3 linked regions of the Homo sapiens genome follow. The protein of the gene in region 2 purifies or fractionates together with the protein of the main gene of each other region. This does not show direct contact. Each region holds a gene or a part of one and is shown on either strand. Other genes may lie near its edges. The genes, in order: SORL1, SP7 and SLC25A13.

What was found.
Region 1: the proteins of SP7 (region 2) and SORL1 purify together in Homo sapiens (affinity purification with mass spectrometry; 2 studies listed by BioGRID and IntAct, with this or other methods). This does not show direct contact.
Region 3: the proteins of SP7 (region 2) and SLC25A13 purify together in Homo sapiens (affinity purification with mass spectrometry; one large-scale study listed by BioGRID and IntAct). This does not show direct contact.

Annotation. Positions count from the first base shown.
Region 1 is NC_000011.10:121,602,235-121,605,883, reverse strand, and holds part of SORL1 (sortilin-related receptor preproprotein), read right to left. Parts: intron 1,692-3,649; coding exon 1,560-1,691; intron 772-1,559; coding exon 645-771; intron 483-644; coding exon 313-482; intron 1-312. UniProt on the Homo sapiens protein: Sorting receptor that directs several proteins to their correct location within the cell. Along with AP-1 complex, involved Golgi apparatus - endosome sorting.
Region 2 is NC_000012.12:53,334,191-53,337,939, forward strand, and holds the start of SP7 (transcription factor Sp7), read right to left. Parts: upstream 2,165-3,749; 5' UTR 1,956-2,164; intron 1,587-1,955; exon of another isoform or gene 1,504-1,586; 5' UTR 1,457-1,503; coding exon 1,436-1,456; intron 1-1,435. UniProt on the Homo sapiens protein: Transcriptional activator essential for osteoblast differentiation. Binds to SP1 and EKLF consensus sequences and to other G/C-rich sequences.
Region 3 is NC_000007.14:96,185,950-96,189,598, forward strand, and holds part of SLC25A13 (electrogenic aspartate/glutamate antiporter SLC25A13, mitochondrial), read right to left. Parts: coding exon 3,632-3,649; intron 3,430-3,631; coding exon 3,345-3,429; intron 1-3,344. UniProt on the Homo sapiens protein: Mitochondrial electrogenic aspartate/glutamate antiporter that favors efflux of aspartate and entry of glutamate and proton within the mitochondria as part of the malate-aspartate shuttle.

The sequences.
Region 1 (3,649 bases), on a different chromosome or scaffold from region 2:
ATGACCTCCTCCTAAGTACCAAGTACTAGGAAATATCTAGAGGAGGAACGTAGAGGTAGAAACTAGACAAAAAATGCAAGAGGGCAATGGTGGAGAGAATCTTAAATTAACTTAAGGTACAAGAACAGTCTCTGATGCAGTAAGAAGAACAGATGTTTGACAACTCTGGCAAGACTATAAAGCTTAGCCACCATACTTCTGTACATGTGAGGCACACATATGTTCCCACATTCCTGAGAATACTCAGAAAGACCCTCACAAACCCCGACCTGAGGTCTTACCCATGCCATAAAAATTAACTGAAACACTTACATCCCTCTGGGGTCCTCAGGGTCACAAAGTCATTGGTGTTGTGTGCCTTGCTGAGACACTGAACCTGTACTTTAACCTGATACGTGGTATCTGGTTTCAAGACTTTTAATACAGTGTTTGTCTTATTGCTGTGGGTCTCCAGAGTCTTCCATATGCTCTCTCCAACCACCCTGGCCCAAAAAAAAATAAAGATATTGTCACACTGGAGCAGCATGGGGGGCTGAGATGTCTGACTCCGTTAATAGCATGGTGCATGCCACTAGAGAGTTTACAGAACATCCTGGGGCAATGAAGACATCATTTTCATCTCCCATGACAAAGATGGGACCTACCTGTAGTAGACATTATATACACAAGAAGCAGAGGGCATTTTTTTGGGCCTCATCCAGGTCAAAGTCACATCCCCAGAGAAGTCAGCTGTCCACTGAAGATTCTGTACTTTGTACACAGTCAACTCATCTAGAGAGATAAAGGAGAAAAAGACAAACAAAGTTACATCTTGGCTGGGCGTGGTGGCTCACGCCTGTAATCCTAGCACTTTGGGAGGCCGAGGCGGGCAAATTGCCTGAGCTCAGGAGTTCGAGACTGGCCTGGGCAATGTGGCTAAACCCCGTCTCTACTAAAAATACAAAAAAAAAAAAGTTACATCTTACAAATCCTTAGATTTCAAAGGACTCCTGCTTTTAAACAGAACTACCATGATCTAGATTATCAGGAGGCCATAATCATTATCTGAAAAGAAATCTCAGAAAATGTAGTTGAAACCTCCCTATACAATCCCTCCTAGGGTCTCCTACTTTTCCGGTCGTGATATTTTCCCTCGAATTTCATCTTCCTCCTGCCTATGACAATTTAAGCCTATTTCTCCATAGAGAATGCTACAAGTCCAAGGACCATGTCATAGGGTCCATTACTAGACACTCCAGAGATAAGAACTGAGTTAATCCCACCAGCAGATTGAGACTGTGAGAGCCATGGTGTATGGGCATGAGGTGGGAAGTCCATAAAAAAAAAAAAATCCAAGACTAGCATTTCACTAACAGGGAGGAGACAGCTGCATGTTGTATCAGAGTCTGGCCAAGGCTCACCTCACTTGGGGCTCCAAAACTAGGCACAAATCTGTTTTATCCTTAGATTGAGCAACAGTTCAAAAGGGTCCTAGCTCAAGGTCTACACAGGAGGGGCCCTGGGGTAAGCGAGCCTCCCAGCCCAGCCCAGCCCAGCCCAGCCCGTGGACCGGCACTCACCACTGCAGGCCTTTTCATCGCTCTCGTCCGAGCAGTCCAGGAAGCCGTCGCAGCGCTCCGAGAGCACAATGCAGGCCTCCCCGTCCTCGCACTGGAACTCCCTGCTCATGCAAGTCAAGGTGCTGTGTGTGGCTGAAACACAGAGAGGCTTCTTAAGTCCACGGGGAGGGGCCGTATGGTACTAAAGGCTGGGCCCAAGTTTATTCCCATTTAGGCAAAGTACTAATTGGCTTCTGCTTCAAAACACACCTCTGGAATGACCAGTGGTGGAATCTATACCGGCACTAAGGTGCCATCTCATCTAACATTAACAACTGGAATCTGCATTCGGGAAGAGTGAGCACTTTGGAGTCAAACAAACTAGAGTTTAAATCCTAGATCTGCATGAGCTTGAGCAAACAGCTTAATATCACCTGAGTTCAGTTGCCCTATAAAAAATGGAAGTAACAATTCCATCACTATCATGTCTGCAAGGATCTAATGAGATCACACACCTGGAACACTGCCTGGCTCCTGGCCGGCATCAACAAACTGTAGCTATTACTCTATAGTACTATTAATTATTCTGCTACTATTATTAGTTTGCAATCTAGAAAGAGGAGCTGATTTCTGGTTTGAGTAACAGAAATAACAATGAGATGAATCCCAACAATATTAAGAGGCATGCATACTTTATGTAGTATTTAAAGTTGTTTGGCTTTTCAAAGTACTTGAACAGAAAATGAAATAATGCAAATAATGAGCACTGGTAAGTTAAGGGTTATGCAACTGTATGTCTAGGCTATTGACCAAAATGTGATGTGCTCTCCAGTTCTGAAAGTAGATTAAAACTGCACGGGAGGCTCCAAAAAGAAAGCAATGACCGTATAATTGCAAATGCTCCTGAAAAGAGAAAAGGTGAGAATGGCTGTAGACAGCAAATCTGCTATGCAGGCTGTGTACCTGGGTGGTACAAATCTGCTATGTAGCTGGTTGAGCCCAGGAACAGTAACTTGAGGCCTTCCTTATACAGATTCACACCTGCCTGCCCAGTCCTGGACAAGGAAGGGCTACATCAGAAATCCAATCCCACCAGTGATGAGGGTCTAAAATCAATCTTGCTCCTCCAAGTCAAAGACGTCCACATCCTAATCCCTGGAACCTGTAATATGTTACCTTATGTAACAAAGCAACTTTGCAGGTGTGATTAGATTAAGGACCCATAGGTAGGAGAGTTCAGCCTGGATTATCCAGGTGGGCTCTGTCTAATGACATGGGTCCTTAAAAGCAGAGACCCTTTTCTGGTTGTGGTGAGAGACAGAGAGAATACAGAAGACAGGTGAGAGACATGCAACATCACTGGCTTTGAAAATGGGGAAATTATAACAGACAAAAGGAGGCTGAACATGAGTGGCTCCATTCTGCTCCCCGCACCCTGCCCCCTGCCCATGGTGACATCTTGTAGGTTAACGGCCTCTGCCTATCTCTGCACGTAGGCCAAGCTAACTATGGAAGGAATTTTGTTTATAGTTTAATTTTAAAGCAAGGATGATAATAGTCCCTTCCTGAAACTAAGCCCTGAGGAAATAAAGAGAGTGTACACACAAGTAACAAAGTTATGTTAAAGGTGATATGAGCATTGTGACCTGAGCAAGGAAGCTTCATACGCCCCACTTCAGACCCAGGCATGTGGTCATGGGTCACCTCTTGACCTCGACCCCCTCCCTCTTCTCCTTCCTCCTAACATAAACAACCACACTTTGAGATATAGGTAGAGAAACTGGATAATGTTCCCATGAGAGCAACCAGGATGGTCAAGAGGAATGGATAAAGGATCCAGGGATATTTTCCTAGAGGTGAAAAGATACAAGGATGGGGGAGGTGGTGAGAAGACATGCAGACCACTCTGACAAGTGTTCTCCACTGATGAGTTTTCATGAGAAAGAAGAATTAAGACTTCTTTGCACGAGTCTCTAGGATGGAGGTACAGACTTCAGTTCACTACTTATTCAAAAACAATCCTGATAAAAAATTGTCAATAGAAGGGAACTATCAAAACCACTTATGAGGCTTTTCACAAACTATAATCCCCCATTCTCCAGGAAGATCAT
Region 2 (3,749 bases):
ACAGAGTGTGACAAGGGACGTGGTGTCCATCTGGTTGGCTTGCATGCTATTCCCCCAAACTCAGCCACAAATTCACTATCTCACAGCCTTGTGCACACACCATTTATCACTTGGACTCACAGCACTCAGATGGCCCAACTTACACACACACACACACACACACACACACACACACACACACACACTCTCAGGGCCTGTGGCACCCTCGACTGCACCCTAACGATTACACTCAGGCCAATGAACACAGGTGTTAAAAGACTCCTGCCCCATCTCACAAACACACACCTCTCCCACAGGTTGAGTGAGTTGGCTTCCTGTTTGGCCCAGCACCCCTGGGCCTGAGCTAGGGCACTGGGAAGAGAGATGTGGGACCCAAGAATAGGGAAGAGTCAAGGCTACTGAAGGGGACTGACTTTCAGGGAGGGCCCTCTGGCCCTAAATTCCTGCAGAGAGACCCAGAAAGCAGGACAGAGATGGTGACAGAGGAACAGTGTCAGAGACCCAGAAGCAGGGAGGAATCTGGCCCTGAGTGGCTGTGAGCCCTGCCTTCCCAACTCTGTGCCTTGGGTCCCCCAGAAGCCAGAGTAGAGTCAGAAATTTCTCAAGACCCCAAACCCTGACCCCAGTGGTACCCCAATTCCCTTTGTCCCCAGCACCAGAGGCAAGGGATGCTGGGGTCCCAGCCCGGAGGGGAAGTGGCCCAGTCCGCCCTGGAGCCTCCCACTCCCAAAATAGAGCTGAGTTTGTCTTTGGCTGAAAGCTAAATATTTGTAAGCCGGGCAAGCGGCCTCAGACCCCGTCCCTCCTCCTTGGTTCCCTCACAGGCCTGGGCTCAGTTCCCCTGGTCAGCTCCCCCACAGGCACAGGCTGGCCTCCTCCTTTCTCTCATAGCCTACCTCCTCTCCTCCACACACCAGCTCACGGGCCCAGCCCCCTCCCCACAAAACCAGGCAAGATCCTGTCTGGGCTACGAGTCCCAGGAGACGGGACCCCTAAAGAGCTATACCCAGTTGCTGCTCTGTGCCCACTCAGCCAGTCCTCTCTGCCTTCTATCTCTTCTGCCAGCTTATGTATTTCCCACCCCTCTCTCCTCACTCCCCCTCGCCCCCCTCCCCCTCCTTTCTCCATCGCTTTTCCACTCCTCACAGTCAGTGTGCTTAGCTGACCTTAGGTAGGGGTCCATGCCTTCTTCTGACCTAATCCCCTCTCACCCTCTTTCCACTGCCCTCTGACCCCTGGCCCTATTCTTCCCTCCCTTTTCTCCTGCCCTCTGCTTCCCCTTTCTTGGACCCCACTCCTCTCTCCTCATCAGAAGGACCCCTGGAATTGACAAGCACCACAGCTACTATCTATGTGAGTTGGAGGAGGTGGGTGGGCAAGGACTAGGACCATTAAGGTTGTGGCTGGTTTCCTGGGGGGAAGAGGGGACAGTTACCTCAAGCAGGGAGGACGCCATCCTGAGGCTGGGGAACGGGTCCCAAGGAGCCAGGCAGATGGAGAGAGCTGAGCCGGGGGGTGGGGGGGGTAGAGAGAGAAAAGGGAGAGGGAGGGAGAATGGGAGAATGGGAGAGAAGAGATCTAAAGTTAGAAGGGACCGGGGTGGGGGGCTGCTCTCTGTCTGTAGGGATCCACCCTCTAATTACAGCTTTCCCAGCGGAGAAGGCTCCAGATCCAATGAGGAGGGCGAGAGAGGGAGGCAGAGGGTCCAAATTTCCTGCTCCATTTGCTGAGCTCCCCAAAGAAGGGATCAGGGAGGGAGAGGAGAAAAAGGGGCGCCCATGGAAGGGGTGGGAAGCAGGAAGAGGGGAGAGCAGCATGGGCAAGTTGTCAGGGCTTCCTCGGGGGGCTGCTGAGGGGAGAGGTTAAAGGGATGGTGGACCCCGGTGTCCTACACGCGGCAGCAGTCCCATAGGCATCTGTGGGCACCCCTCCCAGAGCTCCCCAGTGTCATGTACCTGGGGGAACCTGGGGCTGGCTGTCCCGAGTCTCTCCTCTCTGGAGGTCTGGCAGGGAGAGTGCAGGCAACGGGTGGCCTGAGGGTGCTGGGAGGGATCCGCTCTCTCCCAGGCCAGCTCCACTCCTGTTCCACTCAGGCTCCGGTCCTACAGTCCTACTCTGACTCCAGAGTCCTTGCTGCTGCTCGGCGGCTGCTGCTTCTGCTACTGCTGCTGCCTAGGCTGCTGCCGCCCGCCGCTGCTGAGGGAAGGAACAGGAGGGAAAAGGAACAAACCCCAAACCACTAATTAGAGATCCAGGGGGGGGATGGGGGGTTGGGGACGACACTCACACAGAGAGACTGGAACGCACTGACATACACACTCATGGCCAAACACAGGGGTGATGCATGCACACGTACACACAGTACCACTCACATGGGTACAGCCACTATCATGAATGAACACAGACGGACACACACAAATGCACACAGTGACGCACTGGAGGCACACGCACCACACCCGCCCCAGCTGACCATGGAGAGGCTTGCTTCCCCAGTCACCCACCTGCCTCTAGATCAGGAGAGCAGTGTGTATGTGCCCCTGTGTGTGTGTACGTGCCCGTGTGTGTGTGTGTGTGTGTATGTTGTGGGAAGAGGCATGGAAGGTTCTGAGGTGGAGGTTTCTGCTGCCTAAACTTTTAGTGTCACTGAGGTTGGTTCCAGAGCAAGGCCTGGAGGAAGGGTTGAAGAGTTGGGGAAGGCTTGGTATTGGCTTGGGGGTCCCTCAGTCTTCCTCCCAGTGCCTCAGTTTCACTGTTTGGAGGTGATACCTAGGCCTACCTCACTTTGTGGGGCAGAACCTGGATCTTCTGATGAAGAGAAAATTTAAGACAAGCAGGAGTGAGGGTGGCGGTAGAAGGTCATTGGGTCAACTCATTCATGCCGACACCTAACCTCTTTGGATTATTTCCCCCAAAAAGAAATGCCCTAACCTCCATATTCCTTGTCAGTTACCATCCCTGGGTAACCAAGTTACCATCTCTTAGAGACCATGGGTTTAATCTCCATCCTTTGGTGGACAGTTCTCCAGAGTGATCTGACTTTCCTGGGAACTCCTGGTTCCCTTTCTCATTGCCATGCATCAATTCCCTCTTCCACAGAAAGAACTGAAGTTAGAACTTAATAAGGACTTCCCAACAAAATAGGAAGTAAGAGAAGGAAGGGCAGCCAGGTTAGGAGGGAAACCCAAAAAGTCTATTACCTGAAACCTGGGCCATGGGCCCTGAGGTATTTATGGGAGAGAGGACTGGGCAGCTAAGTGGTGACACCGGCAGCTCTCCCACAGGGGGGCTTAGCCCGCTGGGGTTGTTTTACAGGTTATTCCTTAACACACACTTCTCCCCCTCCCAGCTCTCCCTGTCAGGGGAATAAAGCCCCATCCTTTCCACTCTCCTCACTCTGCAACACCATCCCCTCACTTTCTCGGAGTGCCCAATTCCTTGCTCCTTTTGCTCTCCCAGATCTCCAAAGAAAAAGCTGGGAGGTGGCAGGAGCAGATGGAGGTCCACGGAGGGTTGCACAGCAGTTTCGCCAGCAGGTAGGCACCAATTTCAGGGTAGGGCCCAGGAGTTCTGGATTCTAGCCCCATGATTTGATTTACCTCAAGGAACTCTGGGAACCCAAGGTTTAGGGGAAGGGTTTGGGAACCAGGTGGCTGATAGACAAAGAGAAAGCAGCAAAAGAAGAAACAGAGCAAATGAAAGAGTCCAAGACAATCAGAAGAGATATCACCAGGTATAAGAGAGAGGAAACA
Region 3 (3,649 bases), on a different chromosome or scaffold from region 2:
CATCATTTTTCATCAATCAAATTGGCAGGTTTTTGGTTTGTATGTATTTTTGTTTTTGTTTTAAGTGGCAATACCCAGCCTGGCAAAAGTTGATAACAAGCCTTCTGAAATTTGCCATTAAAGCAAGCATAAATAGAGAGATGTTTAGTAATATACACCCAAACCCTTAAAATGTACATAACCTCTGAAGTTAGAATAGGCTGGGTGCAGTGGCTCACACCTGTAATCCCAGCACTTTGGGAGGCCGAGGTGGGTGGATCACTTGAGGTCAGGAGTTCGAGACCAGCCTGACCACCATGGAGAAACCCCGTCTCTTCTAAAAATAAAAAATTAGCCGGACGTGGTGGCGCATGCCTGTAATCTCAGCTACTTGGGAGGCTGAGGCAGGAGAATCACTTGAACCTGGGAGGCGGAGGCTGCAGTGAGCCAAGATCGCGCCACTGCACTCCAGCCTGGGCAAGAAGAGTGAAACTCCGTCTCAAAAAGAAAAAAGTTAGGATAGAAGATAATCATGCATGTAACAAGCTACAAGAATGTAGCACTTAAAAAACATTTGTAGTACTTATTGGAAATTTCGATTATTTCCCAAATTTTTGCTCTTTAAACAAAAAGAACAAAAATTTGGGAAATATTCTAAATGTCCAATAACGGAGGACTATAGCCTTTAAAAATAATAACTTTAAAACAAAACCCTATCATTCAAAATGATACTGTAAAAGAATATTTGATATTAAATGTTCACAAGGAATTATAAAAGAAAACATAGGCTAAAAAGAGCATGGTAAGTAGATAGGTATTTGTCATATGATTCTTTGTACCTATTTAAATGTTTGACCTATTTCCTGGTAATTTTTTTAAAAACAATTTTTAAGACTATATACAAAATGATGTCACTTTTTATTAAAAATGCTTGTAAGAGGTTTACATATATATGCATATAAAATTAATACTAATATTTTGCCTCCCTACCACCCAGAGATACTCAAAACATTTACAGTAGCTAAAACTAGGTGGCTGTATTACAGTTGATCGTTACTTTTTCTCTTTTTTTGTCCATCTTTTCTAAATTCATACTTCAGGTCAGTCAGTCATTGTTTTCTGGTTCTTTTGACCTATTATCCTCACAGTGTTTTTGATGCCAGAACATTTCAGAGTGCTGCACTTCTCTGTCTGCATAAATAAAACAGTAATTTTATGTCACAGAGAGTTGTCAAATGAGGGTGACATATAGTCAGTGCTTAATAAATACCTGTTGAATGAATACATACATTCAATAAAATTTGTTTTTCAGAATCCATGATAATTAAAATCAGTGAACAATGAAAATAATCAGCAACCCCAGCTATCAACCCACTGAATTTTAGTTGCTGTCAATGTAACACAATTCTAATACAATGAGATCATTTGGAATCTCCTTCAAAGTCACTTAACTGAAAATAGCTTTACATAGAAATATGCCTCTTTAAGATACAAAACATTTCTTTTGCAAATTCTATGAGTTGTTTCCAACTGTAGCCCTATATAGATGGAAATCAATAGTACCTTCATTTTGACAGATGCATCCAAAAGAGAAGCAATATTTTATTTACAGGGATATAAATATGCAATACTTAGAAATGTTCTGGCATCAAAATAATGAGTGAAAATACTCTGAAAATTATAGAGGGTGGGGGGAGGAGGGACCTACCACCACCATTAATTCCTCTCCTAAAAGACAAATGAAATCCTAGACTTTTATTTAACTTTTCCAAAGCCAGAACTGTAGCATGTTCTTGAAATGAGACAAAACTCTGCTCCTTCACTCCTCTGTCCAGGATAAATGCTACAAGTGCTGCACAGTGCTGGACAGGCAGCGCTGTGCCCACAGGTGGACGACCTCCCTTGCTTGAATTTGTCGGGCCCACTAGGGTTCATGCAGTAAAAAGCCTATTCCAGGTAAGGCCATTGTGAATTGCTCTAAACCTCTAAGCGGCAGCGAATCATTTCCTGCTATAAATCTCATCAATCTGGTCTAACCCTTTCATGGCCAGTATCAACAAGCACCCATCATAAACTCTCAAAAGCTGCAAAGAGCTTAAAGGAAAAATTGTGGGAAGCCGCTGCCAGCTGAAGAGTAGGAGGGATCTAAAAAAAACTTCTCTGCTTCTCTTAATCCCCAAATTTCTACAATAGCTGGTGGCATACAGACGAAGAGATAATCATCTCCTAAGCAGTGTTAAAAATCAAAGGGAAGGGAGAGCAGTGTTGCTTCCACCTCTACACGTGATTATAGTTATTTCTCCTGCACTCAGAGAAATCGGCTTCCTCTTTTAAGCAAGGCCAGCTGGTTTTCCAGAGGTGCTCGTTAGAATTTACTGAGCACACACCCACTACTTTGACTTGCATGCTGCACACAAAACTCACCGCTGCATTTGGGTGGGAAAGAGCTAAAAGAAGGGGGCCCTGGCTCAAGGTCTGACAGTCCTAAAAGTGTAGCCTGCAGCAACCCATTGTGGTCACACTGGCGTCTCTGTACAAACCCAGAGCTCCATGCCAGAAACTGCGAAGTCTCACAGGATTCAGAGATGGCTCTGCCTAAAAGGAGAAATTTTTCTAAAAACGACACTCGCCTGTGAGTGGATTTATTTTACAAACACCATTTATTTTACTAACACATGCTATGAAGGCTTTTCTTCTCTAATCCTGATCTACAGAAAGCTGGGTAAGAGTTAAAGGAGAAAGTTCCATGTCTTAAGTTTCTGACTCCCACAACTTCAAGAGATTGGTTTCTGTTAACCATAAAATAAAATTTAGCATTCCTAAAATTGTTTCCATATAACTTATGAATCCTTTCACAGAGAAAATAGGTCTGAAAGCCTTTAAACTGTAACTCCAGACTAAACAAAATTATCTCATTTTGATATTCAGAAAAACGGAAGGCATGGCAGTTAGACGATGCGCTGATGAAGGGCTGCTCCACAGAGCAAAGACGGCTTTCATTTAGCAACGTGCAGCTGCCGACAGGCACAGTGACACCAACACGGGATTCTTTCGCTACATCTCTCAACATGAGACTTCAAGAAAGGAGAAAAGACCTCCTTCATGTTTTCGGAGCATTAGGCTTCTGGTGCAGTTAGGAAATCACTCCACCTTAGCAAGAAATGAGCAAATGCCAAATACCTGTTTATCACACCATTTCTAAGCAATTTCTCTTTACAGCCTTTAAAATTTATCGAGAGTTTTGGTGCAAAACAGAAAAATGGTTAAGTCAGATACCAATGCCGCAAAGGCAACTGCAAGTGGAACAGGGTTGGGGTATCCTGCTAAGGAAACCCCAGAATGCAAGTTTGCTCCTCTTTGCTCACCTGCCTCTGGGCCTCAGCCAAGTTAAAGGGCAGAGTTCCCTCTTCCAGAGGAGCAATCCGTTCAATGTCTGCTAAGGTCATACGTCTGTAGGGGAAAAACAAACACAAGCAACAAATATACCAATTTATTACAATTTACATTATAAAATTTAAAAACATCCCTTTTTTCATTTCTCATATTTCAGTATAGCCTTCAGTTTGGCTTCTTTTTCTCCTGATTGCTGCCCTCCTCCTAACCTCCTTTTATTAAGCTAATTCCAAAAAAAAAAAAAAAAAAGCCAACTTACCCCCTTGGCTCATATAAA